Linked DNA regions of Homo sapiens. The protein of the gene in region 5 interacts with the protein of the main gene of each other region in a pairwise test. Each region holds a gene or a part of one and is shown on either strand. Other genes may lie near its edges. The genes, in order: NAV1, GTSE1, DHX37, PARD6G and KIFAP3.

Region 1 (6,324 bases), about 32 Mb from region 5:
GCTCTGCACTTTCTCCATCTATTTCTGTTTCCTCTGATAGACATTCTTTGTTGTGGCTTTTACACCTGTGTTTGTATATTTTCTTCTTCTTCTGCCTGTCTTTTCTGTCAGGACTATATTTCTAAAATGGACCCAGCCTCTACCCTGGGACTAAGCACTGAGTCCATCCATGGCTACAGCATCAGCCACGTGAAACGAGTGTTGGATGCAGAGCCCCCCGAGATGCCTCCTTGCCGTCGAGGTGTCAATAACATATCAGTCTCCCTCAAAGGTCAGTCTTTGTCTCTTGGGGTGAGGTGGTGTGGCATGAAGGCAGGGACAGGATCATCAAATAATCCATCATGCATTCATTCACCAAGAACTCACTGAGAAGGTATAATATGAAGATGCTTAAGTAATGTGAGATATAAAAAGATGAGTAAGACCCAGTCCTAACTTTGGCTCCCAGGGACACTTTTGCTAAGCCTTGGCTTCTTGCTTCACTCCTCACCCCCAGCTCACAGCATGTCCCTAAAAAGAAGATCTAAGTTTTCAAAACTAGGGGTTAAGGGACTCTTATGGAACCATGGGGCAAGTGGCTCTGAGTTTCTTCAGGGGGCTCCTAGATAAAGAAAGAAAAGCCCTTTAGGATCCCTTGCTATCCTCAAGACCCTGGTCAATACTCATGCTTTCTGGGGTGGGGGTTCAGGTCTGAAGGAGAAATGCGTCGACAGCCTGGTGTTCGAGACGCTGATCCCCAAGCCGATGATGCAGCACTACATAAGCCTCCTGCTGAAGCACCGGCGCCTCGTCCTCTCGGGCCCCAGCGGCACGGGCAAGACCTACCTGACCAATCGCTTGGCCGAGTACCTGGTGGAGCGCTCTGGCCGTGAGGTCACAGAGGGCATCGTCAGCACCTTCAACATGCACCAGCAGTCTTGCAAGGTGGCTGCCCCCCGACACCCCTGCCAGCCTTTGTTCATGCCTCAGCCTTCCCTAAGACCCTTCCTCGGCCCCTTCCTGCCTCATTGTTCCCTTTTCCTCACCTCTGCCTTCATCTTTCTTCTCTTCTGTGTTCATTTCCTTCCCTCTCTATCTATCCCCTTTTCCAGTCTTCTCCTTTCCCTCCCCACGATTTCTTTCCAGCCTCTTGCCTTTAACTTGTTTCTCCACACTTTCCCTTGCCTTTATGGAGAAAGGCTTTCCTCTCCACACTTTTCCTTGCTTTGTGCACCTTCCTCCTCAGTTGGTCATTGATGAAACTGCATTCTCCTCATTTCTACCCCACTGTCTGCCAACCCTGTCAATCCCATCCCTTCTCTTTTGTTCTCTTCCTTCTACTTTTCTTTTCAGTATTACTCTCTGACCTTGGGCTATCTGGGAAGAAGCACTCAGAATTAAATGGTACATATTACACCCTCCCCTGCCAAAACCTGATGATGTCTCTTGAGTACCCTAATACAATGGAGTTGGTTCAGATCTTTGCTCTTCCCAGCTCGGGGAGGCATGCCCATTAGTAGTAGTCCATGGTACCAGTGAAAATCCATCTAGGAAATAGCATATGTTCCCCAACTTTGGGGAATTTAGGGGCTGCTGCTTAAGAGGGTTGCTTTAGAGCCTTTGCAACCACTGCTTATCACTCTGTGGTAATCTGCTGTAATCAAATTTGCAAGGAACTAAAGGCCCCAGGGGAATCTAGATCTAGTAAGACTTCTTCAAAATCCTGATTTCCAAGGCCGATCCAGCTGCTTATTCCCAAGTGCTGACCCACAGCCTTCTTTTATTCCAGGATCTGCAACTGTATCTTTCCAACCTAGCCAACCAGATAGACCGGGAAACAGGAATTGGGGATGTGCCCCTGGTGATTCTATTGGATGACCTGAGTGAAGCAGGCTCCATCAGTGAGTTGGTCAATGGGGCCCTCACCTGCAAGTATCATAAATGGTAAGTAAGCTGGGATCAAGACAAAATTCATCGAAGTGGGAGGAGGGAGAACCCAGTCCAGGACAACCTATGAGTTGTGTGCATGTGGCAGAAAGCAAGTGTGAAGGCAAGTCTAAGTGAATCTTTTTCCCCTTTCTCCCTACAGTCCCTATATTATAGGTACCACCAATCAGCCTGTAAAAATGACACCCAACCATGGCTTGCACTTGAGCTTCAGGTAAGACCTCTAGCTCTGGATGAACCTTCTGACCCTACCCAAGAGTCTTCAATCCTGGACTCTGGCCAGGAGGCAGTAGATAGGAGAAGGAAAGAGAAGTATCCAGAGCTTTTTGGGCTGGAAATAGAAAGTAGATGTATTTGTCATGTCAGTTACAAGGTGGAGGAGGACACTTGAGGAGAGAAAAGGCCTGCTAAGCTAAGAGAGAGCCAGGTAGGTTGCTCTAAGCAGAATTAGGATTCTCTGCCCGCACACGCTGATCTGGGTCAGTGATGTCAGAAGGTTATCCGAAGAGGGCTACCAATTTGAGAATCAGCTCTACCACCCCAGGGCTGCTGCTCTGAGTTCCGATGTCCCCACTATTACTTGAAAAGAAACCAAGTAGGCATTAGTGAGAAGCAGGCAGAAGGAGGGACAGACTGGCAGGGGCTGAACCCTGACAATGTCCCCATTGCCACTCTGACCCCACTTTCCCCATCCTTGGTGGCAGGATGTTGACCTTCTCCAACAACGTGGAGCCAGCCAATGGCTTCCTGGTTCGTTACCTGAGGAGGAAGCTGGTAGAGTCAGACAGCGACATCAATGCCAACAAGGAAGAGCTGCTTCGGGTGCTCGACTGGGTACCCAAGCTGTGGTATCATCTCCACACCTTCCTTGAGAAGCACAGCACCTCAGACTTCCTCATCGGTACTGGGGTCCAGCTTCCCCCGGGGGTCAGGAGGTGGCTTCCCTTTTCCACTGTACCACCTGGAGGGATGCTCCCTTCTCTTCCTGGAGTCTTCGGCATGTAAAGGAGCTGCAAGCCTTGTGGCTTCAGACTTAGAACCACTTAACGAGCCTTCCCAACACAGTTAGCACCACTTCAATCACCAGAAAGCTAACCCCTCTCCTTGTTTTTTTCCCACAATTAACAGAAAAAAGGAGGCACATATGTAGGAAGGAATTAAACAGCTTTCCTCACTCCCTTATCTCACTTCTACCTTGTGAAGCAGGACTTATGAGATTGCCATCTAGGCAGTCAGCACCCACTAGTCTTGACAACTCTAAATTTCCTTTAATCCTTTGACTGTCAGACCCCTCTGCCTGGTACTAAGGAGTAAAAGAGGCACACAACCGGGAAGATCTAGGTTCCCAGCCATCTTCATGGCCCCATCCTCTTCCCTAGGCCCTTGCTTCTTTCTGTCGTGTCCCATTGGCATTGAGGACTTCCGGACCTGGTTCATTGACCTGTGGAACAACTCTATCATTCCCTATCTACAGGAAGGAGCCAAGGATGGGATAAAGGTGAGCCCTACCCCCTTCACTCAAACCCTAAGATCAGGCTGTCCTACCTAACAAAGTAGGAATGTTTCTTTAATGTTAGGCATGGGACTACTAGGATTAGTTAGGTTCTCTTTCTAACAGGTGGAGCAAGGCACTGGGTAGACTAAGCTGCTTTCCTGCCTCCAGCTGCCATTCAGCAAATGGTACAATGACCACTGCCTCTGGGGCCATCTCTCCAGTCCTAGGCCTTCTGGCTCTAAGCCCAATTTAAACCACTCTCTAGGGGTCAGAGCAAACAGAAAAATAATTGAGCTAAGAAGTAAGTAAAACCCTAATTAAAACAAACAAACAAACAAACAAAACCTTAGCTACTTACTACTAATAAGTATGTTATATTAACCAAGTTACTTGACCTTTTTAAATACCCTCATATGTAAAAAAAAAAAGGAGACATCACCTTCTGCTCTACCTAAATCACTGGAGTCTTTTGAAGACAAAATGAAATATGTGAAAAGATTTTTAAAAGTTAGAATAAGGAGACCGGGCGTGGTGGGTCATGCCTGTAATCCCAGCACTGTGGGAGGCCGAGGCGGGCAGATCACCAGGTCAGGAGATCAGGACCATCCTGGCTAACATGGTGAAATCCCCTTTCTACTAAAAATACAAAAAATTAGCCAGACGTGGTGGTGGGCGCCTGCAGTCCCAGCTACTTGGAAGGCTGAGGCAGGAGAATGGCGTGAACTCGGGAGGCAAGAGCTTGCAGTGAGCTGAGATCACGCCACTGTACTCCAGTCTGGGCAACAGAGCGAGACTCTGTCACAAAAACAAAAACAAACAAACAAACAAAAAAACTTAAAATAAGGCTGGGCCTGGTAGCTCTCGCCTGTAATCCCAGCATTTTAGAAGGCTGAGGCGAGAGGACTACTTGAGCCCAGGAGCTTGGGCAACATGGGAGACCCTGTCTATACAAAAAATAAAAAAAATCAGCCAGGCATGGTGGTGCACACCTGTAGTCCCAGCTACTCTGGAGGGTGAGGCCAGAAGATCACTTGAGGCCAGGATATACAGGCTACAGTGAGCCATGTTCTCACCACTACACTCCAGCCTGGGCAACAGAGTGAGAACCTGTCTCAAAAAAAAAAACAATTAAAATTAAAAGTTAGAATAAAAACTTAGTGCAAAAGGAACATGTCATTTTCTTAAAACCACCTCAGTTTTCTTACCTGTAAATTAGGGTATGATGATCACTAAAGTCCATTCCAGCACTAATAAACTGTGATGTAATGGCTAGACCCATGGGTCATATATTATCTGTAAAAGTAACTTGTTATTGAGATAGATATCTCCTGGTGATATAGTAAATTTCTAAAGATGCTGTCAGACTGATGCCAGAAATCATTATTTCATTTATAAATTATATTATTTTAAGGAAATGTTGCATTATTATTAGTAGCTTTTCAATTTAAAAGCATTTTCACACAGATAGTATTTGTTTTCAAGAAAGTAAAAAACAAAAAAAAAGCCGGGTGCGGTGGCTCACGCCTGTAATCCCAGCACTTTGGGAGGCCAAGGCAGGCGGATCACAAGGTCAGGAGATCGAGACCGTCGTGGCTAACACAGTGAAACCCCGTCTCTACTAAAAATACAAAAAATTAGCTAGATGTGGTGGTGGGCACCTGTAGTCCCAGCTACTCGGGAGGCTGAGGCAGAAGAATGGCGTGAACCTGGGAGGTGGAGCTTGCAGTGAGCCGAGATCACCGCCACTGCACTCCAGCCTGGGTGACAGAGGGAGACTCTGTCTCAAAAAAAAAAAAAAAAAGTTAAAAAAAAAAAATTAAGCATTATGACTAAAGCGGAAACATTTCCTACTTGAAAAATGAAATTGTAGGGTCATGAGGTTTGTGCATGTTAAGTTTTAATGAAACCTAGGCATCCATCAGTAGATGAATGGATAAAGAAAATGTGGTATATATACACACAATGGAAAATTATTCAGTTGTAAAAAAGGAGGAAATTCAAAGCCAGGCATGATGATGCATGCCTGTAGTCCCAGCAGCTACTCTGGAAGCTGAGGCGAGAGGATCTCTTGAGACCAGGAGTTAAAGTCTAGCCTAGGCAACATAGCGAGACCTTGTCACTTAAAAAAAGGTGGGGTGGTTGGGGGATGGGGAAGAAATTCTGTCATTTGCAACAACATGGATAAACCTGGAGGACATTATGTTAAGTGAAATAAGCCAGGCACAGAAAGACAAATACTGCATGATCTCACTTATACATAGAATCTAATGAAGTCAAACTCAGAGCAGCAGAAAGTAGAATGGTGGTTACCAGAGGCTGGGCAGGGGGGTAGGTGAGTAGGAGTGGTTGAGGAGATGTTAGTCAAAGGATACAAAATTTCAGTTAGGAGGAATAAGTTCAAGAGATATATTGTACCATATGGTGACTATAGTTAATAACAATGTATCATATACTTGAAACTCACTAAGAGAATAGTTTTTATTTATTTATTTGTATTTTTGAGACGGAGTTTCACTCTTGTTGCCCAGGCTGGAGTGCAATGGCGGGATCTTGGCTCACTGCAACCTCCACCTCTCAGGTTCAAGCGATTCTCCTGCCTCAGCCTCCCAAGTAGCTGGGATTACAGGCATGTGTCACCACGCCCGGCTAATTTTGTATTTTTAGTAGAGACAGGGTTTCTCCTTGTTGGTCAGGCTGGTCTCGAACTCCCAGCCTCAGGCGATCTTCCCACCTCGGCCTCCCAAAGTGCTGGGATTATAGGTGTGAGCCATCGCACGCAGCTGAGAATAGATTTTAAGTGTTCTCACCACACACACAGAAATATGTGAGGTAAAGTCAGGTGCAGTGGCTCACACCTGTTAATCCCAGCACTTTGGGAGGCCAAGGCAGGTAGATCATCTGAG
Region 2 (6,324 bases), on a different chromosome or scaffold from region 5:
CTTTCTACACAGTAACGTCACCTTTTAAAAACACAAGTTAGATTATAAAGCTCTTTTCTTTTCTTTTTTCTTTTTCTTTTTTTTTTTTGAGACAGAGTCTCACTGTTGGCCAGGCTGGAGTGCAGTGGCGTGATCTCGGCTTACTGCAACCTCCGCCTCTTGGGTTCAAGCAATTCTCCTGCCTCAGCCTCCTGAGTATCTGGGACTACAGGCGCCCGCCACCACGCCCAGCTAATTTTTTTTTTTTTTTTTTTTTTTTTAGTAGAGATGGGGTTTCACTGTGTTAGCCAGGATGGTCTCAATCTCCTGACCTCGTGATCTGCCCGCCTGGGCCTCCGGAAGTGCTGGGATTACAGGCATGAGCCACTGTGCTCAGCCTTTTTTTTCTTTTTGAGATGGAGTCTCGTTCTGTCACCAGGCTGGAGTGCAGTGGCGACATCTTGGCTCACTGCAACCTCCGTCTCCTGGGTTCAAGTGATTCCCCTGCCTCAGCCTCCTGAGTAGCTGGGATTAAAGGCATGAGCCACCGTGCCCAGCTAAGTTTTGTATTTTCAGTAGAGACGGGGTTTCACCATGTTGGTCAGGACGGTCTCGAACTCGACCTCAAGTGATCCGCCTGCCTCAGCCTACCACTGTGCTGGGATTACAGGCATGAGCTACCACGCCAGGCCTAAAATTCTTTTCTTAAAGCCCGGTAATAGTTTCCTATCCCACTTTGGAGAAAATAAAAGCTCCTTGCCATGGCTTGCAAACCCTCTGTGATCTGACCCAACTTGTGTTTTCACCTCTTCCAGCCACTCTGACTTCTGACCCGTTCCTCTCACACACGCTTTGATATTTTCTCAGAGGTGTTCCCACCTCTACATGTCTCTCACCGCACTGCCTGAGGCACCCTCCAGGGTGGGCTGCATGTACCCCAAGCCTGCCTGGCACCTAGCGAAGGATGTGGTCTGTTGTGGGTGCTCATGTGTTTGCAGGATGAGCAAGTCAGCCAGCCCGGGACCCCTCGGAGCCAGTCACAGAGCCTGGAGCAGAAGACTGCTTCCCTGAGTTCTGGTCCTGGATTCTTTTTCCACGCCAGACCATTAGAAGTTTCTGAAATTGACTTCCTAATTTAGAGGTGTAAAAAGTGAAATGTCTGCCTCTCTATATCTCTAAGTCACCTACTTGCCCTTCCAAGGGCCATCGATGTCATCAGTCTCTTGGGTATCCTTCCAGACATAATTTGTGCAGGTGCAAGCCAACACGCATAGAGTGTTGCATCCCCCTTTCCATATAGCATGGAGAGCCCTGTCCTGAATCTTGTTTTTCAGGCTTAATTTATCTTGATGAATATTGTGTATCAACACATGAAGAGCATTACTAGCTTTTGTACCTATATAGGGTTCCACCTTGGGGATATGTCATTCATCTCATCTGCTGTGGGTGAACATTTAGTTTGTGCCTAGAGTCTTGCTGTTACCAATGATGCTGCAGTAAATAACTGTGGACACCGTGTAACTGCACAACACATTGCTTTCCACACCTGTGAGTGTCTGTAGGATACACTTGCAGAAGTAGACTTGCTGGGTCGAAGAGGGTGTGTGTTTCTTACTTCGATAGGTACTGCCAGGCCCTCTAGAGAGCTGTGATAATTTACACCTTCCCCAGCAGTGTAGAAATTGTCTCTTTCCCCACAACCTTGCCTATAGTTCATACATCTTTGAGTTTTGCCAGTCATATAGGCGAAAACTGCATTCTCAGAGCAAGTTTATTTTTAATACTTTTTTTTTTTTTTTTTAAGACAGAGTTTCCCTTTTGTCCCCTAGGCTGGAGTGCAATGGTGCGATCTCGGCTCACTGCAAACTCCCCCTCTCAGGTTCCAGCAATTCTCCTGCCTCAGCCTCCCAAGTAGCTGGGATTACAGGCACCTGCCACCAGGCCTGGCTAATTTTTTGTATTTTTAGTAAAGATGAGGTTTCACCATGTTGGCCAGGCTGGTCTCGAACTCCTGACCTCAGGTGATCCACCCGCCTCGACCTTCCAAAGTGCTGGGATTATAGGTGGGAGCCACAGCGCCCAGCCTCATTACTCTTATTTTTGAGTGAGGCTGAACTTCTTGCCATCTATTTAAGAATGTTTCGGCCAGGTGCGGTGGCTTGCGCCTGTCATCCCAACACTTTGGGAGGCCAGGGTGGGCGGATCACCTGAGATCGGGAGTTCCAGACCAGCCTGACCAACATGCAGAAACCCCGTCTCTACTAAAAATACAAAATTAGCCAGACATGCTGGTTCATACTGATCCCAGCTACTTGGGAGGCTAGGGCAGGAGAATCGCTTGAACCCAGGAGGCAGAGGTTGCGGTGAGCCAAGATCGCGCCATTGCACTCCAGCCTGAGCAACAAGAGTGAAACTCCGTCTCAAAAAAAGTAAATAAAGAAAAATAAAAAAGAATGTTTTGTTTTATTTTCTGTGAACTTTATCTGTTTGTATCCTTTTTCTATCTTTATTAGATTATTAATTTTTTATTACTTTATAGATATGCTTCATGAATTAGCCCTTTATGAACTGAGTTGCAAATATTCTTTTCCCCATTTCTTGTTTAACTTATTGTGATTTTTGCCACACAGAGATGTTAAAATTTTAATGTTTGAAGGTCAATCTTTTATTTTTTATTTATTTATTTTCTGAGACATGTTCTTGTTCTGTTGCCTGGGCCTGAGTGTAGTGGCGAGATTGTGGCTCACTGCAGCTTTGACCTCCCAGGCTCATGCGATCCTCCTTCCTAAGCCTCCCTGGTAGCTGAGACTACCACGCCTAGCTAATTTTTGTATTTTTTGTACAGACAAGGTCTCCCTATGTTGTCTAGGCTGGTCTCAAACTCCTAGGCTCAAGCGTTCCTCCCACCTCAGCCTCCCAAAGTGCTGGGATTACAGATGTGAGCCACTGGGCCCAGCCGACCAATCTTTGGTAGCTTCCAGTTTAGTGTCATAGTTAGAAGTCCACACTCCCAAGTTACAAAAGTTTCCTCATAGCTGATTCTTGTTTGTTTAGGGCTTTGTTTTTTTTCCATTAAGTCCTTGATTTGTTTGGAATTAGGCCTGATGTGGTGTGAGGCATGGACCAAACTTAGTTGGCATTTTTCCAGATGATTATGTAGTTTATTTTAATACCATTTTTTCACTTTCCCTCTTTTTTTTTTTTTTTTTTCTTTGAGTTGGAGTCTTGCTCTGTCACCCAGGCTGGAGTGCAGTGGCGTGATCTTGGCTCACTGCAAGCTCCGCCTCCCAGGTTCATGCCATTCTTCTGCATCAGCCTCCCAAGTAGCTGGGACTACAGGCACCTGCCACCACACCCGGCTAATTTTTTGTATTTTTTAGTAGAGATGGGGTTTCACCGTGTTAGCCAGGATGGTCTCGATCTCCTGACCTTGTGATCCACCCTCCTCGGCCTCCCAAAGTGCTGGGATTACAGATGTGAGCCACCCTGCCCGGTCTACTTTCCCTCTTTATTTGATATGTTACTTTTATGATATGCCAAGTCTTCTTTATATCCATTTTGCATATTTCTTGTTAGGTTTGTTTATCGTTATTTTGCATCTTTCGTTGCTGCTAGAAACGAAGTATTTTCTTCCATGTTATCTTCTCACTGTTCTTTGTAGATATGAAAGCTGTTGATTGCTCTGTAATGATTTTGTCCTTAGCCATGTTCTTTTATCCTTTTACTACTTATAGTAGTTTCCAGTTGATCTTCTTGATTTGTTTCTCGTGTCTATAATCATGGCATCTGTGCAGTGTGATCATGTTACCTCCACATTCCTTCCTTTGCCTGACTGTGTTGCTTTATGTGTCCAGAACAGTGTTAAGAATTGTGCTTGGAGATGTCATTGCCACGTGCCTGGCTTTAATGGAATTGCTTCTGTGGTTTTTCATTAAGTCCGATACTGGGTTATGGGTTAATTTCCAAGTAAATGGTAGTCGTAGGTGTGCTATTCATGAGCATTTCTATGTGTTTGTCTTCTGGGCATGTAATAGAATTGTACTCCCTGTTCACTTGAAATTCAGTTGGCTCTGGTGACTCACTTGGCCAGTGAAATGGGAATGTTGTCGTGTGTGTCATTTCTGGGTGGAAATCTTCAAGAACCAGTGTGGAATTGGTTCTTTTCCTTCCTGCCATGGAGACGAGCGGTGTTCCTGATGGTGGAGGCTCCATCAGTTGGGGTCCTGGAGTGAGGAGGCCAGGGAGCAGGGCCCCAGCCTACCCCTCTGCAGACATATAGTTTGAGTGAGAAATATACCTTTGTGGTTTTTGGTTTGTTTTGAGACAGTGTCTCTTGCTCTATTGCCCAGGATGGAGTGCAGTGGCTTGATCATAGCTCACTGCAGCCGCAAGCTCCTGGGCTCAGCATCCTGAGTAGCTGGGACTACAGGTATATGGCACCATACCCCGCTCATTTTTTTTTTTCTTTTTGTAGAGCTGGGGTCTCGCTATGTTGCGAGGGCTGGCCTTGAACCCCTGGGCCTCAAGTGATCCTCCTTGGCCTCCCATAGTGCTGGGATTACAGGCACAGGCCACCATACCTGGCCTACCTTTGTTGTTTTAAGGGTTGTTACTTCAGCATGTTAGCCTATCCTAACTGGTAAGATCAATTTGTTCCTGTCTTTAGAAGGAATACTTCTGACGTTATCCCACTGAACCTAATGCTGGCTTTGGGTTGAGATGGGGATTTCCTTATATATCTATTACTTTTTATTAAGAGCCTCTAAAATCAAGAATGTATGTTGTATTTTATCATATGCCCGTTCAACATATGTGCAGACGATCATGGTTTTCTCTTTAGCTCTAGTAATAAAATGATTATATGAGTAGATTGTATGAAATGAAACCATCTCACAGTCATGAAATGCAGGGAGCTTGGTTGTGTTATGTTATTACCACTTTAATGTTTGCAGGATTCTTTTTGCTGGTATTCTTGTTAAAGAGTTTGATGTTAGGCCAGGTGTGGTAGCTCATACCTGTAATCCCAGCACTTTGGGAGGCCAAGGTAGGAGGAATGCTTGTTCCCAGCAGTTTGAGACCAGCCTGGGCAACATGAGGAGATCCCATCTCTACAAAAAATACAAATATTAGCCAGGGATGGTTGTGCGTGCCTGTAGTCCCAGCTACTCGGGAAGCCGAGACAGGAGGATCCCTCGAGTCCAGGAGTTCGAGGCTGCAGTGAGCTATGATTGTACCACTGTACTCCAGCCTGGGTGACAGAGCGAGACCCTGTCTCAAAAAAAGAAAAAGGATTATTATGCTGATGTAAGTAAGGCTGGTCTTTACTTTCTTTATTGATCACTTTCTAGGTTTTTTGGTAACATACTTACTTGCCTCGTGGAAGTAAGTTGGAAAGTTTTTTTTCTTTTAATCCTCTGGAGTGATGTAAATAGTATTGGAATTATTTGTTCTTTAATGTTTTGATACAATTATCCTATGAATCTAGTTGGGACGCTTTTTTGAAGAGGATAGCTCTTTAATAAATTTCACCAGTTATTTTATGATTATTGAAGTATTAAGATTTTCCCTGTCTTCTGGAGTCAGTTTTATAAATAAGTACATTTAGACAATTTAAATAAAAAATAGACTGGATGCGGTGGCTCACGCCTGTAATCCCAGCACTTTGGAAGGCCGAGATGGAGGGATCACGAGGTCAGGAGATCGAGACCATCCTGGCTAACATTGTGAAACCCCGTCTCTACTAGAAATACAAAAAATTAGCTGGGCGTGGTAGCACGTGCCTGTAATCCCAGCTACTCGGGAGGCTGAGGCAGGAAAATCGCTGGAACCTGGGAAGCAGAGGTTGTAGTGAGCCAAGATCACACCACTGCACTCCAGCCTGAGTGACAGAGTGAGACTCCATCTCAAAAAAATAAAAAGAATATACCAAGTGCAGTGGCTCACGCCTGTAATCCCAGCACTTTGGGAGGCTGAGGCAGGTGGAACACAAGGTCAGGAATTTGAGACCAGCCTGGCCAACATGGTGAAACCGCATCTCTACTAAAAATACGAAAATTAGCCCGGTGTGGTGGCGCGCGCCTGTAATCCCAGCTACTCAGGAGGCTGAGGCAGAAGAATCTCTTGAACCTGGGAGGCGGAGGTTGCAGTGAGCCAAGATCACCCCACTGCACTCCAGCCTGGGCAACAGAGTGAGACTCCATCTCAAAAAAAAAAGAATAAATAAAATTATATTTTCCTAGAAAATTATCTCTTTCAGCCAAGTTCTTAGGTTTATGTGCATGAAGTTGACAGATGTGCTTATGGATCTTTTCATTCCCTCTCTGTGTGGTTATTTCTCTTTTCTTT
Region 3 (5,227 bases), on a different chromosome or scaffold from region 5:
GTTTTCTAGAAACAAGGTCTCGCTCTGTTGCCCAGGATAGAGTGCAGTGGCACAATCATAGCTCACTGCAGCCTCGAATTCCCAGGCACAAATAACCTTCTCGCCACAGCCTCCTGAGTAGTTGGGACTGCAGGGGGCACACCACCACCTCCGACTAATTTTGTTGTTGTTGTTTTCTTTTTTGAGACAGAGCCTCACTCTGTTGCCCAGATTAGAGTATAGTGGTGCGAACTCAGCTCACTGCAACCTCCACCTCCTGGGTTCCAGCAATTTTCCTGCCTCAGCCTCCCAAATAGCTAGGATTACAGGTGTGTGCCACCATGCCCAGCTAATTTTTGTATTTTTAGTAGAGAAGGGGTTTCACCATTTTGGCCAGGCTGGTCTTGAACTCCTGGCCTCAAGTGATCTGCCCACCTCGGCCTCCCAAAACGCTGGGCTTACAAGCAGTGTTACCCAGGCTAGTCTTGAACTCCTGGCCTCTAGGAATCCTTCCACCTTGGCCTCCCAAAGTGTTAGGATGACAAGTGTGACCCACTGCATCTGGCCTGCATTTAAACCCATTTAAAGTGTTCAATTCAGTGGGTTTTAGTATTTTCACAGAGTTTTGCAACCATTATCATAGTTAACTTTAGAACATTTTTATTACCCAACAAAGAAACCCCACATATGTAAGCTGTGAGTCCCCAGTTCCCCGTCACCCCCGTTTTCATGATCCTGCTTTCCATCTGTGGATCTGCCTGTTCTGGACATTTGGCATGAGTGGAATCTTAACATACATGGCTTTTCATGTCTGGCCTCTTGCACTTAGTGTGATGCTTTCAAGCCCCATCCACGCCATGGCAGGTGTCGGTGCTTCCTTTTTTTTTTTTTTTTGAGAAGGAGTTTTGCTCTTATTGCCCAAGCCGGAGTGCAATGGCGTGATCTCAGCTCACTGCAACCTCCACCTCCCGGGTTCAAGCAATTCTCCTGCCTCAGCCTCCCAAGTAGCTGGGATTACAGGTGTGTGCCACCATGCCCAGTTAATTTTTTGTATTTTTAGTAGAAATGGGGTTTCACCAACATGGTGAAACCAGCCAGGCTGGTCTCGAACTCTTGACCTCAGATGATCCACCCTCCTCGGCCTCCCAGAGTGTTGGGATTACAGGCGTGAGCCATTGCACCCGGCACTTCCTTCCTTTTCACGGCTGGATCAGACTCCAGCGTGTGGATGGGCCGCATTTCCCGGCAGATGGAGCACTCTCCCACTTTTGCGGCTGGAGTGGATAATCAGATTCTTCTCCTGGGTTGAAAGTATGCGGAGCCCCTGGGCATGGGTTCTTCCCTGACCACATCACTCTCCATTCTCTGCAGACCCCTCTCCTCGACGACCCTGTCTTCATCCACCCCAGCTCCGTCCTTTTCAAAGAGCTCCCCGAGTTTGTGGTCTACCAGGAAATCGTGGAGACCACTAAGATGTACATGAAAGGTGCCGAGGCCTGCGGACAGCCCCTTGTCCCCCGATGGTGACGCTAATGGGGGTGTGGCTGGGACCCTGGGGCAGAGGCATGGCAGCCCCTCCCACGGAGGGTGCCGCTGTAACCCCAGCTTCCTCCCCCGGCCCCCAGGCGTCTCTAGCGTGGAGGTCCAGTGGATCCCGGCCCTGCTGCCCTCTTACTGCCAGTTTGACAAGCCCCTGGAGGAACCAGCCCCTACATACTGCCCCGAGCGGGGGCGGGTGCTGTGTCACCGGGCCAGCGTGTTCTGTGAGTTGGGGCAGTGTCCTGGGCAACCTGAGCCTCCTGCAGCCGTGGGCTTCTCGGACACACGGTCCTGTCCCCTGCCCCCGGACGTGTGTGTCTCGGGTGGGGCAGGGATGGGACTCGGGAGGGCAGCTGCAGGAGGGTCCCTGTCTCACTGGCTCCCACCTTCTAGATCGCGTGGGCTGGCCGCTCCCCGCCATCGAGGTGGATTTTCCAGAGGGGATTGACCGCTACAAGCACTTTGCCCGGTTCCTGCTGGAAGGGCAGGTAGGTGGCACAGCGGCTCCAGACCCTCATCTCGGGTACCGTGGGCAGCAGCAGCCCGGGCCTCACCCCTTCCTGTGGTCTCTCATCAGGTCTTCCGCAAGCTGGCCTCATACCGGAGCTGTCTGCTGTCCAGCCCCGGCACCATGCTGAAGACGTGGGCCAGGTACTGCCTTCGGTGGGAGCCTCGCAGTGGGCAGGAGGGGTCCGAGGCCTGAATGACCTCCCCGGGGCTGCCAGGACAAAGCACCACACACAGGGAGGCTTAAAACATCAGAAGTCTGTGCTCAGGTCTGAAGGCTCTGCAGAGCCACGGTCTGTGCAGCGGCTCTCGGGGAGGGTCCGTCTTGCCTCTGTCGGCCTCCTGGGCTTGTGGCCACATCACTCCAGTCTCTGCCTCCATCTTCACGTGGCCATCTCTCTGTGTGTCTTTAGTCTCCCTCCCTGTGTTCTCCTTATAAGGACACCAGTCATTGTATTCAGGGCCCACCCTACTCCAGGATGACCTCTCCTTAACTCATGACATTTGCAGTGACCCTCTTTCCATATAAGGTCACACGCTGATGTTCTGGGTGGACATGAATATGGGATAGGGGAGACACTGGGCAGCTCCCACAGAGCCGCCAGGTGTCAGTGGGAGGCATCCTGCCCTCCTGGCCCTGGGGACTTCCTCCCAGCTAAGCAGACCCCTGCCCCATCCCGCCCACCACCTCTGCTTCAGGGCTCACCCTTGCCCTCTGCCTCCTGCTTCTGCTCTCCTCCTGCCTGTGGTCCAGACCCACAGACACCTCCCCCTTCCTGGGGCTGGTGGGGCCTATGGTGCAGGGGCTTGGGGCACTGGAGGCAGGCCTGAAGGTGCAGGCAGGTGCCAGGGACTCGAGATGGGGCGTGGGGCACAGCACCCGCTGCTGGGCTGTCAGGAGCCGTGTCAGTCACTCAGCTCACGTTTTCCAGTGTGGCCCTGTCCCAGGCATGTTCTCGGGGCTGGGATACAGACACGATCTCTGTCCCACAGCAGCGTTGCTCGGCCCCAGAGGGACAGAGCAGGACATGAGTGAGGCCTCGGTGGGCAGGGGGTGGAGTGCGACTGGGCTGGTCGGGGAGAGCCTCACTGGGCAGATTCAAAGGAGCCAGGGCTGCAGCTGGGCACAAATCTGGAGGAAGGTTCTAGATGAGACAAGTTGCATGCACAGAGCAGCCTTGGTGGGCAAGGAATGTGGACCAGAGGCAGCCAGGGTGGATGGGAGGAGGTGGGATCTAGAGCCTTCTGTCCCGGGATGATTAGGGGAAGGGGACCCTTTGCCTTCTCTTTTATTTTATTATTATTATTTATTTTTTAGAAGGCCTGTCTAGAGAATTATGTTTTTTTGCTTTTGAGTTTTGTTTGTTTGCTTGTTTGTTTGAGACAGAGTTTTGTTCTTGTTGCCCAGGCTGGAGTGCAATGGCGTGATCTTGGCTCACTGCAGCCTCTGCCTCCTGGGTTCAAGTGATTCTCCTGCCTCAGCCTCCTGAGTAGCTGGGATTACAGGTGACCGCCACCATGCCCGGCAAATATTTTTGGATTTTTAGTAGAGCTAGGGTTTCACCATGTTAGCCAGGCTGGTCTCGAACTCCTGGCCTCAGGTGATCCACCTGCCTCAGCTTCCCAAAGTGCTGGGATTACAGGCGTGAGCCACCACGCTCAGCCAGTTTGTTTGTTTTTGAGACAAGTTCTTGCCCTGTTGCCCAGGCTGGAGTGCAGTGGTGCAGTCATGGTTCACTGCAGCCTCCAACTCCCAGGCTCAAGGGATCCTCCTACTTCAGCCCCCTGAGTAACTGGGGCTACAGGTGCATGTCACCATGCCCAGCCAGCTCTTCACCCTCCTGGGTGGGGCTGGTGGGGTGGTGATGCCTGCCCTGCTTTCGGGCCCCCAGCAGCAGCCGGTCTGTGCCCTGGCTGCCTGCCACCAACGTGCATTCCTGCCCCACAGGCTGCAGCCCCGTACGGAGAGCCTTCTGCGAGCCCTGGTTGCAGAGAAGGCTGACTGCCATGAAGCCTTGCTGGCTGCTTGGAAGAAAAACCCCAAATGTGAGTTTGACCAGGGCCAGGGGGTGGGAGTAGACAGGATGGGGTCACTGAGGCAGGGGCTTTGTGCTTTGTGCACGGTCAGCCCTGGCTTGGCAGAAGGATCTGGCCCCACGGCTGCTGGCCAGCTTTTTGCCACCTGAGGAGAGTCCCTGGGCCCAGGGTCACCCTGACACTGTCCTCCTTCCCTCCCCTGCAGACCTGCTGGCTGAGTACTGTGAGTGGCTTCCACAGGCCATGCACCCCGATATCGAGAAAGCCTGGCCCCCCACCACTGTCCACTGACCAGAAACCTGGCTGCAGGGCCGAGGACTGGTTTGGGGACTGGAGGGCTGGCAGCAGCCTGTCACCGTGCGACCGTGACCACCTGGCATGGGCTTCGTGGCCTGCTCTCAGGAAGTGGGTCAAGCCCTGGGAACCCTCATCCATGAGAGCTCGATCCCGTATGAAGGGTGCTGCCGCCCGTGCCATCTGGCCCGGGGGTGACTTTTTGAACTGTTTATTATATGGTGGATGATGATTTCATCTCACGTGCTGGACGCTGTTCTGTTCAGTGTGCTCTTTGGACTACATTAGTCCCCTGTGGAGCAGCAGGGCTGGAGATCTCTGCAGTCCCTTCCCCGCCCGCCCTGCCAGAAGGCCGAGGAGGCACGTGGAGGGCCTCCTTCCTGCAATTCTTCCCTCTCCAGAGTCAGGGAGGGCTGCCCAGCCCTGGCCTCACAGCCGTCCCAGATGTTAGGTGAGCCACTGAGCTCTGTGTTGACCTTGAGGGGCCTGGCTGGGGGCCCCCAGGCTCCATGCCTTCTTGGGAGGGTGGCCGCCAACGCCTTTCCTGTGTTATGGCAACAGGGAGTGGGCATCTCATCTGCCTGTGGTCAGCTCTCAGACGGCAGGGAGCGGAGCTGACGTTGGCTGTGCTTGGTCACCGCTGCCATGCCGCAGAGGATGCGCCTAGCTGGGCTGGGGCCACACGACTATTATGTTGGCCTTGAACGGGGACTGCAGAGCCCTCAGTTTGTCTCCCTTGTTCCTCTGTGGCTGAGGTGGGAGGGGGAGGGTGGGGTAGGTCCCCCAGCAAGAAAGAGGGACAGGAGCACCCCAGGCAGGACCAAGGAGTCGGGAGGCCCCTGCCTTCTGTCCTCCATGGTGAGGGCACAGA
Region 4 (6,324 bases), on a different chromosome or scaffold from region 5:
ATGCCCAAGGGTTCCGGCTCCTGTCATTCCTCACTCGGCAATTCGGGATCTTTATTCATCAGGTGGTACATATACAGTTGAAAACTAATTAGATTGGTTCCAAAATATATACAAATAAAGTAATGTTTATGGAAAACTAGTCATTATATCATCTAGACATTGTATGAATGAGTCAGGGAAGGTCATCTAAGATCAGACGTGTTTGTGCCAGGATCACCTGGAGGCCCCCCAGAGTTCTGGATTTGACTGTGCTGAGGTACAGCCTAAGAATCTGCATTTTAACAAGTTCCTGAAAGAGCTGATGCTATTGATCTGGGGACCACACACAGAGAACCACTGGTTTTATGGGAATCAGCCACTAGACCTTAACCTCCACAGATTCTTTGTGAAACTGAATTGCTCAAGAACAAATCTCCTTTTCTACCTCCCTTTCAAAAAGCACTTCCCCCAGGTTACCAAAAGCAAAACAAACCTCTCATCCATTGTGCACTGCCCTCAGCAATTAAAAAAAAAAAAAAAATCTCCAGGGCCTACAACAATGGGACAATTCAAAATACTGGCTTGGGGCAGGCATGGTGGCTCACGCCTGTAATCCCAGCAGTTTGGGAGGCCAAGGCGGGCAGATTACTTGAGGTCAGGAGTTCAAGACCAGCCTGGCCAACATGGTGAAACCCCATCTCTACTAAAAGTACCAAAAAATGAGCCAGGCATGGTGGCACACACCAGTAATCCCAGCAATCTCAGGAGTCTGAGGCAGGAGAATCCCTTGAACCTGGGAGGTGGAGGTTGCAGTGAGCCAAGATCATGCCACCGCACTCCAGCCTGGGCAAAAGAGTGAGACTCAGTCTTAATAATAATAATAATAATAACAATAGTTTGGGAAAAGCCACTTTCAATGACTAATCAAAGCCCCTCTAACCTACGGTCTACATACTCAGTAAGGGAAGAAGTGGGACCCCAGAACTTGGTATTTGGACAGTTACATGCTCTGAACACGGCTGCACCCTGGAAGGGGCAGAGGAAAGGGCTCTCCTCTATCTCCTGCTATTGTCAGAAGTGCAGAGCAGAGCAAACCCTTGAAATCTCTCCCCGTTATTCAAGGGGAAACGTTCACCCAAGGATGACACTGGTACAGCATGTAGGCGATGCAGATTCTTTCACACACAGGGGCTCCAAAACTTTAAGACACACATGTAAAGCCTACAACATCAGTTTTATGCGGTATCTTTCAGATCACAAAGCATTTATTTCACTAACATCAATCCTTGTCTTTCCCATCTCACATAGCTCATATATACTCACACGGTTTGCATCTGTGTCCCCACCCAGGTCTCATGGTGAATTGTAATCCCCAGTGTTGGAGGAGGGGCCTGGTGGGAGGTGACTGGATCATGAGGGCAGAGCTCTTATGAATGGTTAAGCCCAACTCCAGGTGCTGTTCTTGTGATGGTGAGTGAGTGAGTGATCACGAGATCTGGTTGTTTTAAAAGTGTGTAGCACCTTCCCCCTCTTTTAGTCCTGCTCCTGCCATGTAGGATGCCTACTCCCATCTTGCCTTCTGCCATGAGTAAAAGCTCCCTGAGGCCGTCCCAGGAGCAGATGGTCACCATGCTTCCTGTGCAGCCTGTGGAACCGTGAGCCAATTAAGTCTCTTTTCTTTATAAACCACCCAGTCTGTAGTCTTTCTTTACAGCTATGTGAGAATGGACTAATACATATACCAACTTCCAAAGCAATTTCCTTGTATCACTATATGGCTTTCGTTTAACTGAATACATAAGATAATTTAATCATGTCTAATGCAACTAGTAAGAGTGTTTTTGAATTTTATATAATTCTCACTTCAGTATCACCGCAAAGGGATACAGCTCACTTTCACCTCAGGAACGCCAGGCCTCCCTGAAACAGCATAGGCTAAATGTTAGTTCTACAATGTTTCAGTCTTAACTTTATTTAGCAACTAACCTAAAACACATCTCAGTTTCTCAGTACGTTCAATAATTTTCTCAAAATATGTCTTAGCATGTTAACTTGAAATGAAAAATAAATTCAGACTGTTTCCTGAGAGAAAACAAGGTTGATTTGTGTTTAATGATGAGGCTGACTTTGCCAACCCAGCTATATGGTAAACATGCTTCATATGTTGAATGAGCTCCAAAGTTTTGACAAAAAGAGATGTGAAATGTGACATGACAAAAGCATTGTATTTAAAAATCATATTGGTATTGGGTACTAAATATTTTTATTTCCCCATGATATCAGATTAAACAAGAGTCCTCTAAATGAAGGAATTAGCAGGTATAATTCATTGTCACATACTTCTTGGTAAAGTCCTTCCAGTATACTTACCAGAAACTGAAACAGTGAATGGCTCTAATGACCAGGCAATAAACCTTGCAAGTCAAGTAGTTTCCAATTACTTGCTTTTGACAAAATATAAAGTTGTCCTAACTGAACTGTCAGCTAATTATCAAAATAATTTTGAGAGACCACCCTATTATTTTTGTCACACAACCTGTTGAGAGTTCAAAGAACTGAGCTGTGCTTAGGGGCCTTCACTCTCATCTACCTGAGTGTGCAAATGAAGCTTCACAGTGTTGACACCCAACAATAAAAATTGCAAAACAATTAGTGCCAGCCTACCTCATTTATCAATAAATACTTAACAGTAAATGAAAGATTCTTCAAATGTTTATTTGGATGGCTAGTGATTATCAATAAATACTTAACAGTAAATGAAAGATTCTTCAGATGTTTATTTGGATGGCTAGTGATTATCAATAAATACTTAACGTAAATGAAAGATTCTTCAGATGTTTACTTGGATGGCTAGTGATTATCAATAAATACTTAACAGTAAATGAAAGATTCTTCAGATGTTTATTTGGATGGCTAGTGATTATCAATAAAGACTTAACAGTAAATGAAAGATTCTTCCGATGTTTATTTGGATGGCTAGTGATTATCAATAAATACTTAACAGTAAATGAAAGATTCTTCCGATGTTTATTTGGATGGCTAGTGATTATCAATAAATACTTAACAGTAAATGAAAGATTCTTCCGATGTTTACTTGGATGGCTAGTGATTATCAATAAATACTTAACAGTAAATGAAAGATTCTTCAGATGTTTATTTGGATGGCTAGTGATTATCAATAAATACTTAACAGTAAATGAAAGATTCTTCCGATGTTTATTTGGATGGCTAGTGATTATCAATAAATACTTAACAGTAAATGAAAGATTCTTCCGATGTTTATTTGGATGGCTAGTGATTATCAATAAATACTTAACAGTAAATGAAAGATTCTTCCGAAGTTTATTTGGATGGCTAGTGATTATCAATAAATACTTAATGTAAACGAAAGATTCTTCAGATGTTTACTTGGATGGCTAGTGATTATCAAATTGCACAACTATGTTCCAATCACCATTTGATAATACTTGTTAATAACTCAATCTAGAAATTTACTATAACAATCTATTTCATTTATAATTGTGGTAAAACACACATAAAATTTACCATATTAGCTCTTTTTAAGTGTACAGTTCAGGAGTGTACATTCACACTGTTATGCACCCACTCTCTAGATTGCTTTTCATCTTGCAAGCTAGAACCCTATACTAGTAAACAACTTAAAAATATTTTTAACAAATAGAGCCCCAGGACCACAAGAGAAAAATATTTGAACTTCAATTTATACATATTTTTTGTTGCAGAGAAGAGTAACAGGGGTAACGAAGCATAAGTTATTAGAATAAAATATTAGGACAAAAATCTCTTGAGGGAGTAATGGGAAGAAGAAATCAAAGAGAAAAAGAAACCATGTATAATTTCTGATTAGAAAAGAGCTCTTCAGAGTCAGAAAAGTGGCAAAAATAAGAGTCTGTTTATCCTATTTTAAAATGCATGATAGTGGTATCAAATCACTGCAGCATTTAGATTTCACTGTATCAAATCACTGCAGCATTTAGATTTCACTGTATCAAATCACTGCAGCATTTAGATTTCACTGTATCAAATCACTGCAGCATTTAGATTTCACTGGCTGTATTTAGAAGATCATGCACCAAAAACTTTATTTGTAATGGAATATTTACAGCATGCTGTAAATTACATCCTTTGCAAACTATTTATATTTACTAAAAAAAATTCAGGTACCAACTTAAAAATATATCATCCCCTTTTATAGTGGTAGTTTTTCAAAATTCTTTCAGGCTTCATGTGACATTTGAAGACCACAACATCAGAGTTCAGGGATCACTATGAAAATGCCTAAACCACCATTAAAGGTTAGCAGGAGACTTGGCACTCCCTAATATTTTCATTGTTTTTCATGTGGGTGTTTGTTCGTATAGCAGGACTTACAACAGGACGGCTGCTTCAACATCTGCTGGGCTTCATTCATTCACCTACTATCCCGCACATAAAATGCCTCAAAGGGAGCCATCCTATCCCGGGAGGTCATCTCCTCACTCCAAACCAGTGACCAATTTCAATGAAAGATCAATACTCAAGCCAGGCATGGTGGTATACACCTGTAGTCCCAGCTACTTGGAGGCTGAGGCAGGAGGATCACTTGAGCCCAGGAGTTCCAGGTCAGCCTGGGCAACATAGCAAGACCTTGTTTATGTTAAAAAAAAAAATCAAATTTCCTAAAAAAGATTGCATTGCTGTGCCTGGCCTAGGTTAGTAGCAAGTTAATAGATAACCCCATCAAAAAGTCCACATTGGCCAGCGATGGCTGATGTCTGTAATCTCAGCACTTTGGGAGGCCAAGGGAGAGTCCGAGACCAGTCTGGCCAACATAGTGAAACCCCATCTCTACTAAAAATACAGAAAAACTTAGGCAGGCGTGGTGGCACACGCTTGTAGTCCCAGCTACTTGGGAGGGTGCTCCAGGAGAACTGCTTGAACATAGGAGGCAGAGGGTGCAGTGAGCCAAGATTGCACCACTGCACTCCAGCTTGAGTAACAGAGTGAGACTCCATCTCGAAAAAAGAAAACAAACAAACAAACAAAAAAAAAAAACACACCTTTCCCTCACCAGTACCCTGACACTATGAGCTGTATCATTTCCCCTTAAAAGGACCCATGGTTCCGAGGCAAAATGGCTAATTCCAGGTATATGGCAAGAAATGTATGTAAGCCTATGAATCCCATGTTTATTTTTAAAGAATAAGATTATTTGTTATTGGGAAATACACAGGTGTGCAAATTCTTATTCTTCAATGCTTCTAGCTAAATGAACCCTCATTCATTATTTAGATAATGATTATTCTATTTTGTAGTTGACCCCAACTATTATTCCTACAACAGGATAGTAAAAAACGGGGTTGGGGGAGATTTCATCTTTTAAAATTATTAAAAATTATCTCAAATACAAAATACCAAGATCAATAAGCAAAAGCGTATCAGCATCTGGCTAGGTGTGGTGGCTCACACCTGTAATCCCAGGACTTTGGGAGGCCAAGGCAGGTGGATCGTTTGACTCTAGGAGTTTGATACCAGCCTGGGCAACATGGGGAAACCATGTCTCTACAGAAAAGTACAAAAATTAGCCAGGCGTGGTGGCACACGCCTGTAGTCTCAATCACTTGGCAGGCAGAGGCAGGAGGATCGTTTGAACCTGGGATGTGGAGTCTGCAGTGAAGTGAGACTGCACCATTGCACTCCAGCCTAGATGACAGAGTAAGACCCTGTCTCAAAAAATACAAAGTGTATCAAAAGCTTCTAAATGCAAATCATTTTTATTTTCTTTAAAATGTATTCAATGATAACATCATTATACTATAAATAGAAAATAAGAAATGTCCATCTATCACCTATATCATATCAATCTCTATTAATCATATCTATCTATTCCCCCAACTCTAACTTCTTATCATAATTTTGACCCTTTTCCTTCCAGAAGAAGGGATAGAGCTCGAGAAGTGCTTGTTGAATGAATAATACCTTGGAGCCAGTTGCGATAAAAGTAATGTTCCATACAGCTCTTGGTCAATAAGCAAGGAGACAAAAAGATGATGGAAACCCAAGACAGCTAGGAGCCTGGGAAGCACGACAGGAAAGATGACAGGACAGTGCTGTTTTAAGTTAATCTCCAAGCACTTCCAGAATGGAAGACTAGGACCTGCAAATCTCTGCTTATCCATTAAAGACAGAATACTGGGAAAAACTGTCAAAACCAACTTTTAGAGAACCGTGGAAATTAATCAATGGCTTGCAACAATGCAAGGAGTGTTTATTCTAGAAAAGCAGCTGAATCTCAGTAAGAGCAGCAAGCTTTGCGGTGCTTTCACTTCCTATCCACCTCTCAAC
Region 5 (6,324 bases):
TTTTACATCGATACCTGAGGGAAGTGTTCCCAACCTGGCTCTTCCATATTTTTCTCAGTATTGCGGGACCTTTCCCTGTCCACTTAAAAATTTAAAATTGTGTTTCAAATTCAGTAAAATACCTTTTGGGATAATGACTGACATAATGAATTTTCAGATTAAGGCATCTATCCATGAAAATGATAAATCTACTTTTAAGATTTAATTTTCTTTTAATGAAATGATATAAATTTCTTTAGAAAGGTGATGCCCATCATTTATTATTAGATTTATTCCCAAGTACCTTATATTGTTATTTGCATTTGTAAATAACTTTTTTGCTAACAATATTTAACCAACTATATCAAAATTCAATTTGGGAGTGGGAGGTATATAGATGTTACATCCAGCAACTGTTGCTTAATACCTTGATATTAATGCCAATAGCTTGAACATTATTTTAGGTTTTCTCTACAAACTAATATATAATTTGTGAATAATATCAGTTTCATTTCTTCTCTTCCTATCTTTATACCTTTTCTATTTCTTATCTTACTACCTGTTTAGGACTCCTGGTGAAATGTTGAGGTGGTTACATAGGTATCCTTGGATCATCCTTAATGTTAAGGGAAATGTTTCTAAAGTTTCCTCATTTACTGATGTTACTTTATTTTTTGAGAAAGGGTCTCACTCTTGTCACCTAGGCTGAAGTGCAGTGGTGTGATCACAGCTCACTGCAGCCTTGCCTCCCAGGCTCAGGCAATCCTCCCACCTCCACCTTCCAAGTAGCTGGGACTACAGGCATGCACCACCATGCCCAGCTAAGTTTTGTATTTTTTATAGAGATGGGGTTTCAACATATTGCCCAGGCTAGTCTTGAACTCCTGGGCTCAAGCGATCCACCAGCCTCAGCCTCCCAAAGTGCTGGGATGACAGGCATGAGCCAACACACCTGGCTAGTTTCCTCATTTAATATGTTTATATCATAATTCCCTTTTATTTATGGCTTTAGTTTTTTCCTTAAATCATGAATGTGTAGTGAATGTCATCAAATGTTTTTCTGCATCCATTGGAGGATCATGTATTGTTCTTCTTTAATTCATAAATATACTACATCAAATTCATTAAATACATAAAACCATACTCATATTCTTAGAATAAGCACAACTTGTTAATGCTGTCTTAAAGCACTGTTAGATTAAATTTGCATCCTTGCTCATTCAGCCTGCAATTTTCCTTTCTAATGTCCTTTTTCTGACTTTCATATGGAGATTATTCTAAAATCTTAATATAAATTAGTTGAGGAGTATCCTTTTTTTTCTAGACTTCTTGGAAGAGTTGTACATAATTGGAAGCATCTGTTTCCCAAAAATTTTGTTAGAATTTGACTTTAAAACTGTCTGGATGTAGCAGATTTTATCAGTATGAAATACTCCTCTGTAGTTTTTACAGTATACGTTTTCTTAAAGCCTATTTTATCTGACATTAATATGGTCATTTTAGCATTCTTATGCTTACTGTTTGATTGCACCCATTTACCATTAACTTACCATGTCCATACTTAAAAGTATATTTTTTGGGGATGACAGATAGTTGGGTCTTGCTTTTCTTTTTTCTTTATAAAAGAAATATTGGTGGCCGGGCGCAGTGGCTCACGCCTGTAATCCCAGCATTTTGGGAAGCCGAGGTGGGTGGATCATGAGGTCAGGAGATCGAGACCATCCTGGCTAACATGGTGAAACCCTGTCTCTACTAAAAAATACAAAAAATTAGCTGGGCATGGTGGCGGGCACCTGTAGTCCCAGCTACTTGGGAGGCTGAGGCAGGAGAATGGCGTGAACCCGGGAGGCGGAGCTTGCAGTGAGCCAAGATCATGCCACTGCCCTCCAGCCTGGGCGACAGAGCAAGACTCCACCTCAAAAAAAAAAAAAAAAAAAAAAAAAAGAAATATTGGTAATCTCTGCCTTTCCATTGGAACATTAAAACCTATGCTGTCTGATACAATAGTCACTAGCTACATGGGTCTATTTAAAATTAAATTTAAATACATTACATTTTAAAAATAATTAAAAATGCAATTCCTTAGCTGTACTAACCACGTTCAAAGTGTTCATTAGCCATACAGCCAGTGGCTATGTATTTGATGATGCAGCTGTAAGTCATTTCCATCAGGGAAGAAAGTTCTATTGGACATTATTGTTTTGGATCATTTAATGCAATGACTGACATACTTAGATTCAGATCTATCACTTCATTTTTATTTCCTGTTTGGCCCAACTATACTTTGATTATTTTCCTAACAGCCTTGTGAATTATTATTTTTTAAATTCCATTTTGTGTAGATGTTTTCACTATACTTTTAAAAACTGTTTTTGGTGGTTGCTTTAGGAAAAACAATGTTTTAGTTACCTTTTTTTTTTCACAAGGTATTTAAGAATTAATGCTGTGCTACTTCACAAATTGCAGGTCTATTGCCTACACCCCCCCCCCCATTCTTTATGTTATAGCTGTCATATGCATTATGTGTACATACCTTATAAACTCACACAAAAATTTCATAATTTTTGCTTTCAAGTCATATGTATTTTTAAAAAATTAAGAGGGAAATAATCTCTTATATGTACTCAAATATTTATAATTCCTGATGCTTTTCATATTGGTAAAACCAAAACAAGTTTTATATTTCTATTACTAACATTAGACTTGGTAATAGAGAAACAGAGGATTAAGGTAATTCAAACCAATGCACCTTCTAAGAAAATCTTAAAAGCTGGGGGCAAAAACACGTATGTGTGTATCTGTTTGAGGCCATAAGAGAACTAAAAAGGCACAAAAAATTACAGTGCCAAGATCCAGGAGAAAAAGAAAATGAAGAGAGGTAAATCTTGAATTTGAGGCTACTTTTCCCTAGAGGTATCTGCTAACTGAAAAGAGAGGGCTGAGAGGTTGAGAATCTTTTAATAATCACATGAGGCTAGAGACACAAAAACTGGATTCTAGAGTGCACCAAACAACAGTGGCTCTGGTAAAGCTCCAAGCTTTAAGCTTGAAACAGGAGGACTACCTCCTAGGAGTAACTGTGAAACAGATGCAGATCGGTCACCAACAAGACTAAAAAGCCCAGTTTAATGTAATTGAATCTCTGAGAACTAATTAAGGTGACCCTAAATTTTCAGTAATCCTTACTAACATAAATAAAATATAATCTTCTCTGGAAAAAGAGAACATCATCCTGAGCCTCAAATGATTATTTATACATTTATATTCCTATATATGATACTCAAAGAATAGTCATCTTCAGAAAAAACTAGATAATTTTTTTAAATTTCTAGAATTAAAAATACAATAACCAAAATTAAGAATAATAATAAATAAATAGGTTTAATAGCAGATTAGATACGGGTAAGGAGATAATTTATGGCATAAAATATAAGTCAGAAGAAAACACCCAGAATAAAACATAGAGACAAAAAGATGTAAAACACAAGCAAAAGTATAATTCAGCAATGCATACTGAGTAGGTCTAGCATATGTACTTGAAGTCCCAGAAAAAAGGTGAGAGAGAATGGGTACAGAGCAATATATGAAAAGATAATGGCTAAGTGACATCAGTGAAAACGGCAGAGTAGGGACCTCTAGAGGCTGGCACTCCCCAGAAGCACTAAAAACTTGGCAAAAAAAACCTATCACAATCAACCTCATCAGAACTCTGGAAGACAGTCAAAGGTTTACAGCAACCAAGTGAATGTTTAATCAGAAGAAAGGTTACAGAAACAAGGTAGGCGATCATTATGGTCTTTTCACTTACCCTAGACATCCACCCCACTCTCAAGCACAGTGGCAGTCTTCAAGATGGCAGCCCACGTTCCCACTGTTAATACTTGGTTCTAGAGGAGTCAAGTGGACCTTGCTCCCAAGGAATTTTGTCTGATTGTTTTGCAACTGACTGAAGTTTCCTTTGAGGTCAGCTGCAAGGGGCTTTCCTTTGTTTTGACTAATTTTAAACTCTTATCAGGATAGTGCAGCTATGCAGTCACTGAAATCAGTGAAAGCCAAGCATACAAGCTGCTGGCCCCTGGGATAAATAGTAATAGCTGGGTCAAACAAAACACAAGCTGAAAGCCCAAGAGGAAAGTCCAGGGAGTCAGACATTTTGGGGGAATAGATGCTTTGAAAAGCTATTGCATATAAAGAGAAATCTAGAAATCCATGAGCATGCTCAGGGCAGAATACATACCCAGAAAAAACCTGGGAAGATCATAAGCTTTTACCTCTGGCTGGTCTTCAGGCTCTGTGCAAGCAGCAAATGAAGGCTAAGGTAAAATTGTAAATTGCCTGGCTAAGTGTTGAAGCCATATCCAAACACTGAGTCAACCTACAAAGATCTGAAGAGTATTTTTTTCTTTTCTTTTTTTCCTTTGGATACCATAATATTCAAAATACCCAGTTTTCAACAAAACAAAATATGAAACATGCAAAGAAACAAGAAACTCATTCTCATTCTCACAATAAAAAAAATTAACAGAAACTGTCCATGCTACAGCACAAACACTGGACTTATCAAAGACTTTAAATCAACTGTCTTAAATATGTCCAAAGAGCAAAAAGAAACCAGTGCAAATAACTAAGAAAAAGGAGAAACACAATGTCTCAACACATAAATAGTTTAAAAATATATTATCATAAGGATCCAAACAAAAACACTAGATCTGAAAAGTACAATAACTGAAATAAAAAAATCACTACAGGGTTTTTAACAGCAGATCTGAGCAGAGAGAGAAAAGAATCAGCAAACTTGAAGATATGTCAAATGAAACTGTCCATTTTGAGGCACAGAAAGAAAACAGAATGAAGAAAAATAAACAGAACCTAAGAGACTTATGGAACACCATCTAGTATACCAACATATGCATAATGAGGGTATGAAAGGAGAGGAAGAAAGAAACATAGAGAATACTGGGAGAAAAAACAGTCAAAAACTTCCCAAATTAGACCAAAGACAAACTTACACATCCAAGAAGCTCAATGAAATTCAAAGATAAACTCAAACAGATCCACAATAAGACACTCTATACTGACGCTCTATTTAAAAAAATAAATAAAAGATTTTGAATTAATAACCTAATTTTACACCTTAAGGGGCTAGAAAAAGAAGAGCAAACAAAACCCCAAGCTAGCAGAAGGAAATAATAAAAAGCAGCAACAGAGACTAGAAAAAGAATAGAGAAAATGAAACCAAAGGTTAGTTCTTTGAAAAGATCAACAAACATTTTTGGAAAACTTTTAGTTAGACTGACTAAAAAAGAAAAGAAGAGACTCAAATTACTAAAATCAGAAATGAAAGTGGGACATTACTGCTGCTCTTTTGATGATTAAAAAATTACAAGAGAATAATATGAACACCAACAAATTGGATAACCTACATGAAAAAGAATAATTCCTAGAAACACACAAACTACCAAAACTGACTCAAAAGACACAGAAAATCTGAACAGAATTAGAAGTAAGGTGATTGAATCAGTAATCATAAACCTTTCAACAAGTCCAGTACCAGATGGCTTCACTGGTGAATTCTACCAAGCATTTAAAGACAAATTAACATAAATACCCCTCAAACTCTTCCAAAAGATATAACAGTAGAGGAAACACTTCCTAATTCATTCCATGAGGCCACCATTACCCTGATACCAAAGCAAGACAAAGACACTACAGGAAAACCTTTAGACCAATACCCTTTATGAATGTCGATGTGAAAATCCTCAAAATACTAGCAAACAGAATACAGGAGTATATTAAAAGGACCACGCAACATGGCCACATGGGCATTTCAATACAATACACCACATTAATGGAATGAAGAAAAAAAGTACATGATTATCTCAATCGATGCAGAAAAAAGCATCTGACAAAACCCAACATCTTTTCATGATAAAAGTACTTGATAAATTAGGAATAGAAGAAAAGTCCCTTAACATAATAAAGGGCATATATGAAAAATCTACAGCCAATATCATACTCAATGGTGAAAGAATGAAAGCTTTCCCCCTAAGATCAGGAACAAGACAAGAATGTTTATCCACTTTCCTGACTTCTATTCAACATAGTACTGGAAATTCTAGCCAGAGCAATGAGGCATGGGAAAAAAAAATAAAAAGGCATCCAGATTGAAAAAGAAGAAGTAAAATTATTTCTATCTGCAGAAGACATAATCTTATATATAGAAAATTCTAAAAATGGCACAAAAAACTGGCTAGAGCTAATAAATTCAGCAAAGTTGGAGAATAGATCAGAACACACCAAAAAAATCCACTGTTTTTCTACATATTGGAGCTGAAAAATATGAAA

What was found.
Region 1: the proteins of KIFAP3 (region 5) and NAV1 interact in a two-hybrid assay, tested with the Homo sapiens proteins (one large-scale study listed by BioGRID).
Region 2: the proteins of KIFAP3 (region 5) and GTSE1 interact in a two-hybrid assay, tested with the Homo sapiens proteins (one large-scale study listed by BioGRID).
Region 3: the proteins of KIFAP3 (region 5) and DHX37 interact in a two-hybrid assay, tested with the Homo sapiens proteins (one large-scale study listed by BioGRID).
Region 4: the proteins of KIFAP3 (region 5) and PARD6G interact in a two-hybrid assay, tested with the Homo sapiens proteins (one large-scale study listed by BioGRID).

What each region holds. Positions count from the first base shown.
Region 1 is NC_000001.11:201,809,835-201,816,158, forward strand, and holds part of NAV1 (neuron navigator 1), read left to right. Parts: intron 1-111; coding exon 112-271; intron 272-688; coding exon 689-924; intron 925-1,768; coding exon 1,769-1,923; intron 1,924-2,068; coding exon 2,069-2,140; intron 2,141-2,630; coding exon 2,631-2,827; intron 2,828-3,305; coding exon 3,306-3,424; intron 3,425-6,324. UniProt on the Homo sapiens protein: May be involved in neuronal migration.
Region 2 is NC_000022.11:46,299,725-46,306,048, forward strand, and holds part of GTSE1 (G2 and S phase-expressed protein 1), read left to right. Parts: intron 1-6,324. UniProt on the Homo sapiens protein: May be involved in p53-induced cell cycle arrest in G2/M phase by interfering with microtubule rearrangements that are required to enter mitosis. Overexpression delays G2/M phase progression.
Region 3 is NC_000012.12:124,946,928-124,952,154, reverse strand, and holds part of DHX37 (probable ATP-dependent RNA helicase DHX37), read left to right. Parts: intron 1-1,350; coding exon 1,351-1,465; coding exon of another isoform or gene 1,466-1,502; intron 1,503-1,604; coding exon 1,605-1,742; intron 1,743-1,911; coding exon 1,912-2,006; intron 2,007-2,095; coding exon 2,096-2,169; intron 2,170-3,973; coding exon 3,974-4,071; coding exon of another isoform or gene 4,072-4,211; exon of another isoform or gene 4,212-4,246; intron 4,247-4,267; coding exon 4,268-4,353; 3' UTR 4,354-5,227. UniProt on the Homo sapiens protein: ATP-binding RNA helicase that plays a role in maturation of the small ribosomal subunit in ribosome biogenesis. Required for the release of the U3 snoRNP from pre-ribosomal particles.
Region 4 is NC_000018.10:80,204,103-80,210,426, forward strand, and holds part of PARD6G (partitioning defective 6 homolog gamma), read right to left. Parts: intron 1-6,324. UniProt on the Homo sapiens protein: Adapter protein involved in asymmetrical cell division and cell polarization processes. May play a role in the formation of epithelial tight junctions. The PARD6-PARD3 complex links GTP-bound Rho small GTPases to atypical protein kinase C proteins.
Region 5 is NC_000001.11:170,063,717-170,070,040, forward strand, and holds part of KIFAP3 (kinesin-associated protein 3), read right to left. Parts: intron 5,202-6,324; exon of another isoform or gene 3,788-5,201; intron 1-3,787. UniProt on the Homo sapiens protein: Involved in tethering the chromosomes to the spindle pole and in chromosome movement. Binds to the tail domain of the KIF3A/KIF3B heterodimer to form a heterotrimeric KIF3 complex and may regulate the membrane binding of this complex.